2 separate regions of the Homo sapiens genome follow, and region 2 is linked to region 1. The links come from fine-mapping of genetic effects on gene expression. A gene starts in region 1. The other region holds a variant in brackets. All regions are shown on one strand. Distances are between the middles of the regions.

What was found. PIP is the estimated chance that this variant, and not a neighbour inherited with it, causes the effect. A credible set is the group of variants that fine-mapping cannot tell apart.
Region 2: its variant is the best candidate, but not a certain one, in a credible set for the expression of EIF4E in rectum (CEDAR, PIP 0.79).

The regions. Positions count from the first base shown.
Region 1 is chr4:98,927,974-98,930,889 of GRCh38, forward strand. EIF4E (eukaryotic translation initiation factor 4E) reads right to left here and starts at 1,160. Exons shown (of 7, transcript NM_001968.5): 1 at 1,122-1,160. The coding sequence starts at 1,139. RefSeq lists an enhancer at 1,554-2,753.
Region 2 is chr4:98,887,513-98,890,428 of GRCh38, forward strand. It overlaps EIF4E (eukaryotic translation initiation factor 4E), which reads right to left. Exons shown (of 7, transcript NM_001968.5): 4 at 377-440. Among named protein-coding and RNA genes, the nearest start is that of EIF4E, 40 kb to the right of the region's middle. The variant CA/C (reference allele first, on the strand shown) is at 1,645.

The DNA.
Region 1 (2,916 bases):
AGCTTGCTTCAGTTAAGTTTAAAATGGTGCCTAAATTGAAATGAAAGTCTGTAGCATAGATAAAGAGAAAAAAAAAGTCAAATGGAAAAGTAAATTTAAAAGTTTCTATTTCCAATAAACTGCGTCTCAGAAATCTTCCAGGAGATAAAGACTCGGAAGAACAGAGGGATTGAGACCCATTCGCATTCTCTGAGGCGTGCGCACTACGCGGAAAGGATGAATGAATGGAAGACGGGCGCGTGTGAAATGCAGCAGGTCCGGCCGGCAAGCCGACCGGCTACAGCGATCTGTAGGCCTCGCTCCTCCCCCTTCCCTCCTCCATGACAGCCCAGTCCCAAGCATGGAGGGGCGAGGACAATGTGATACCCCTTCTCACCACCACCATCCCTCATTCTACTTGGAGAGCTTCACCGTGACACACGAGTGTTCCTTCCCACCCCAGACCTTTCTCGCTTCCCCTGGCGCAAACACCGGCAACTCTCCGGCGCGCTGGATTAACAGACGCTCGCCCCTCTCAACTCCCCTAAGCGAGGTCGAAGCTCCTCCGCGCGTGCCGCGGCACCACTCCCGCCTAACCCACCCTCCGGCAACACTCGCCCACCAGCTCCCCAGTCCACCGGTCTAAGGAAGACGTGCGCGCGCCCCGCACCCGAGCCCCGGAGCTGGGGTTCTGCAGGGAGGGAAAGGCTGCTCCAGGGCTCCCTCCTCCATCTCACTCCAGGCCGGCTCGCCGCCCACCCTGCCTGCGGATCCCAGTACTCGCTGGGAGCCGGCCCTGCGCCTTCCTATCATGAAGACACCATCCTCGCATACCCAGCCCAGAACCCCAGCTACCCTCCACCCTGTAGACACCTCGCGGTTCCGCAGGAGGCGCCACGCCGCCCCTCCCCCACACCGCTCCCCCAGTTCTCGGGCCCCCACCAGAAAGTGTGCGCTACACGCCGCCTCGGCCATCCTCCGGGACGTCCCCACTTGTCCGCGGGAGGTCAGGTCCAACATGAAGGGGAAGGGGCGGCAAGGGGTACAGTGCGCGCCGGGAACGCCGTCCCGCGGAGTCCCCCAGTCAGAAGGAAGACGGAGCGCGGGGACCCGTGGGGGTGGGGGCCAAAGGCAATACTCACCGGTTCGACAGTCGCCATCTTAGATCGATCTGATCGCACAACCGCTCCAGAAGGGGGGGTAAGAGGAAAAAAATGAGATTCAAACCGGATTGGCCAGCTTCTGGCCACGTGACGGATATGTCCGTTTGGCCCTGGCGGCACCTGCGCAAGACTGCGGCTGCGTGAGTAACGAGAGGCTTCTGGGAAGTGGAGTCTCTCCCCCACCTTTTTTTTTTTTTTTTTTTTAAGGTAAAGAAATTTTTTTTAAAAAGGACTGGTCACGTGGCCGATGGGTAGGGTGCGCGGTTCTCAACGCGGCGGACACTCGCTTGCTGGAGGGTGGTTTCAGTCCTCTGCTCTTCCGCCTGGATAGCTGCGGTCACACTTACTGCCAGGCAAGCCTACTGTGCCCTTTGTCGCCCTGTCCTCCCATCTTCCCCGGAAGGTTGGGAACTGCAGGCTCAGCACACACAATAAGGCTTCATTTGCTTAGTTGAGGTCCCAGGACAAGTTGCCTGTGTGTTTATTTAGTTTTCTTTTGATCTCCCACCATTTTCTCTTAGTTTCAAAAAGAGGCGGCGATGCAGAGTCGTTTAGGCAATCAACCCTCCCACGTCCCCTGGCTCAGCTAATGCTGGTGGTCATTCGTTGCCATTTCTGCGAAAGGGGACGGACGGAACCGCCCGCAGTACCCGCTTGCCACCGGCTGGACGAGGGGGAGGGACGACAGCTTTTACTGTCCCAAATCCTGAGATTAAGACCTCAGGGCTAAATCTTGCGTGGCGGTAAAAATTATTTGGAAGTTCTGTGCAACCGTTCCAATATTCCGCTTTTACGTGCACGGAAATAGCCTAAGTCCAGATGCCAGCCAGGGAAGCCACTCCGGGCCCCGCTGACTAAGCCCTGGACTGATGGTCTGGAGTCTTTAGGCCGGGTCAACTATGACTCTTGACGTTGACTCATTCTCCTTAGGCGAGTGACTTAATCGCTCGGCGTCTCAGCTTTTTTATTTATGAACCAAAGGTGATGATACACTTACCTCACAAGGGTGTGCTTCGTAATGACTGTAACCGGCTTTGAAAATGCATCGGACTCTAGAAATGATTCATAATAAGCAACTGCGTGCCTTCCTAAAGATCAAGTGCTTCTGCTTTTTTTTTTTAGCAAAGTTTAAATTTTTTTCTGTTTACTTTGTTTGATTATGATGTACACCAGTGTAGTTTTAAATGTTCAGGACCATTTTTTTTCCTTTACAACTGCAGCTGCCCTCAATAGAGGCTTTAATGTTCATGAAATTATTGTTATGCTCACAACAATCACTGGCAATCAGAAATTTGTCCCCACACTGGCATCCTACATTTCCTTTCCCTCTAAGATACTGTGCTGTCATTTCTCAAGACCGTGTTTTTTGCACAGTTTGGCTACTAATAACAACAAATAGAGATGAAGAAATCTAGTAGACTCCTAAGGTTCTAATGAAGAAGACACTGTCTCATTACTATTTCCCATGCTTTTAAATAATGTTGACACCAGGAAAAGGAGTGTATGCAGGCTGCCTGTGCCTGTCTGCTTATAGTGTTAATGAGGTCCAGAGCTGTGTCATACCTATTATTGAGTACATAATGGATGCTTGAGTTGACTAACACATAATTGAGGCTGTATGAGAACTCAAAGCCATTGCCTGTTCATATGTTTTGGTTTACCTGAATATCAGAAGTGATTAATGAAAGCTTTTGTCTAGTGGGCTTAGCTCTACTAGGTTTTAAAGTAGATAGAATTAACAGGCCAGGCGCAGTGGCCCACGCCTGTAATCACA
Region 2 (2,916 bases), 40 kb before region 1:
GCAATTTCAGTTAATGAATGTCCCGTCCCTCTACCAACTGACAAAGCCCAATAATAAGTATTCCAAGGACCCATGCTCCTAAGGTTAAGAATGCTTGATAAACTCAGTCTGCTCAAATATATAAAGGAAGGAGTAGACTGGATAATCAAAGCTCTCATCAAAATCAATCTCAGTATGTGCCCACAGAGTAACTCTCTCTCAATTTTTATAAACAAATAGAATAAGATATATTGATACTAAAGCATACTACAGCCAATTAAATTATCAGCCTATTCATCACACTATCAAATATTCCTAAGTTTATGGTAAGATTTCTTAATGAATACCAAATGGCCCAGTCCTATAATAAATATATAAAATCACCAATTAAGCATACCTTAAAAAGTGAGTAGTCACAGCCAGGCATTAAATTACTAGACAACTGGATATGGTTGTACAGACTAGGTAAAAGAAAATAACAATTAAAAACACAGAATATGTAATATAGAGTTTAGGTGCTTACATATATATACATTTAGAACATATGATGAAAATAAACAGATAAAAGTTCATGTTTACTTGTTTCTAAGGAGTCAATTTCTAAAATGGACAAAACAGATCTTAAAAGCAGTTAAATAATCAACTTCAGATGACAGGTATAATTTTCAAAAAAACTTCTAGTGACTGCTCTGACAAAAATATATTTTATGTTAGTTAACTCAGTGCATACATATGTATATATATAAGAAACTGAGAAGAGAGGTATAAGGTGGCTTTAAGTAGATGAAATAATTTCTGAAGTTAATACACAGTTTTTTTCACAAACATAAAAAAACAAAAACAAAAACAAAAACAAAAACCAGAAACGATGAACTTCCTGACCATCAGGATTGCATGACTGAAACAGTCATTATCCTTGAAGGTATCCAAGAGTAGAATAGATCAACGGTTCCCAAACACCACAAACTGTCACTGGTTAGTCAACATAATAATCATTTTAAAACTGATTTTAGAAAAATAAATAAATAAATATAGTTACAAGCCCTACATCTTGGGATTATAATCACCTAAATATAAGATGGAACCCTGCAGTCTGTATTTCTAAACTATTTCCCAAGTATCAAAATAACAGAATAACATTTGCGATGACTTAGTTGCTTGCCTGAAGGTAGGAGGCTTAGATCATTTGATCTCCTGTAGTCTTTTACAGCAAAATTGATTTAAAAATTGGCAACTCTTAAGAATCTTTTGCTTGTCTCCAATATTAGATGGCAGAAATAATGATCTTAGCTGTGTCTACAGACCATGGATGATTCTACTATCCTTAGTCTGGTTCTCCTGGTGCTATGTTAACCCCATCTAGGAATATTTCAGGTAAAGATTTAAGGGCCGGGTGCAGTGGCTCACGCCTGTAATCCCAGCACTTTGGGAGGCCGAGGCAGGTGGATCATGAGGTCAGGAGTTCGAGACCAGCCTGACCAACATGATGAAACCCTGTCTCTACTAAAAATACAAAAATTAGCCGGGCGTGGTGGCATGCGCCTGTAATCCCAGCTACTAGGGAGGCTGAGGCAGGAAAATCGCTTGAACCCAGGAGGCGGAGGTTGCAGTGAGCCGAGATCACCCCATTGCACTTCAGCCTGGTGACAGAGCTAGACTCCATCT[CA/C]AAAAAAAAAAAAAGATTTAAGAAAGAAGTTGGCATCTTTAAATCAAATTCCATAGTATAACACACAAATATAGTTTAGGTGAGACAACCTAAGACCACATAAGGTTTGCTGAGTCACTACCTAATGGTAACTCCCAACTACATCATCAATGACAGCCTCCACTAGGCAACAAAAAAAGACGGGATACTAAGTGACTATAAAATTAGCGCTACTAATGTCATAAAATGAATGGATATTGTGGGAATGACCTTCAATAAAATACTTTTTCCCTTTTGCTGCCTCCTTTCTCTTCTGTGGTGCTCAAAGGTCTCTCAAGTAAGTCCATCATGAGAATTTATAATGGCACATCTAAACAGAATCCTAAGACTATGCAGTCTGGATAAATACAAAAGGACTCAATGGTTATCTGCAATAAATTTGCTAGAAAAAAACAGAAATTAGGAAGTGGCCCACACATTTATAGAAAACTGAAAAATCCTTCATATCTCTAAGTTATGGTATAAAAACCTACTATGTAATGACATTGACTACATGTAACTGAAGCATGGAGAACTGTTCTAATTAGAAGGTAGAATTATGTAAACTGGTAAAAGCCAAACAAACTAGATAAATGCAAATCTGATTGGGGAAGGTGGCTCAAGGCTTCCTTTTTCTCTGTAGGAGAATGAAAAGCTTTTTTTTGGGGGGTGCAGAAGACTGGAGTTATTTAAGAGTCCTGAATAAACAAAACTAGAGAAGAAAAACTACTTGATGTTTTGATGATGGGCAAAGAATAATAATCCTAGTTTAACTAGAAAACTAGACCTATAAATTATTAGGCCTTAAATGTAGTTATTATTAAGTGTCAATGCTTTTAATAAAAAATAAATACTCTCAAAGTTTACTCTCAAATGAATGTTCTCAAATACTCTCAAAGTTTATGGTTTTAATCGTATGCTTTGCTTTTTTCAGCAACACAAATGAATACAAAATATCTATTAGAAGCCAAGCACTGGAAATATACAGAAAAATATTGTTTCTGCTGTTGAAGATGTACATACATATGTATAAATTTTATACCACAATCTATTTCTTTGTATGAGCAGAATATCTTGAGGGGGTTACATTAAAACATAAGAGTAGCATCACTAATTCAGCATGTATATGATCCTAAAAAAAGATGTACAAGTTAGAATATTTAGATAACTGCTAGGTAATTTAAAGTGCTTATTAAAGAGTTTTGCCTTTCATGGTCTCAAATAGTACCTCCCTAGTCATTCTCCAAGTAAAT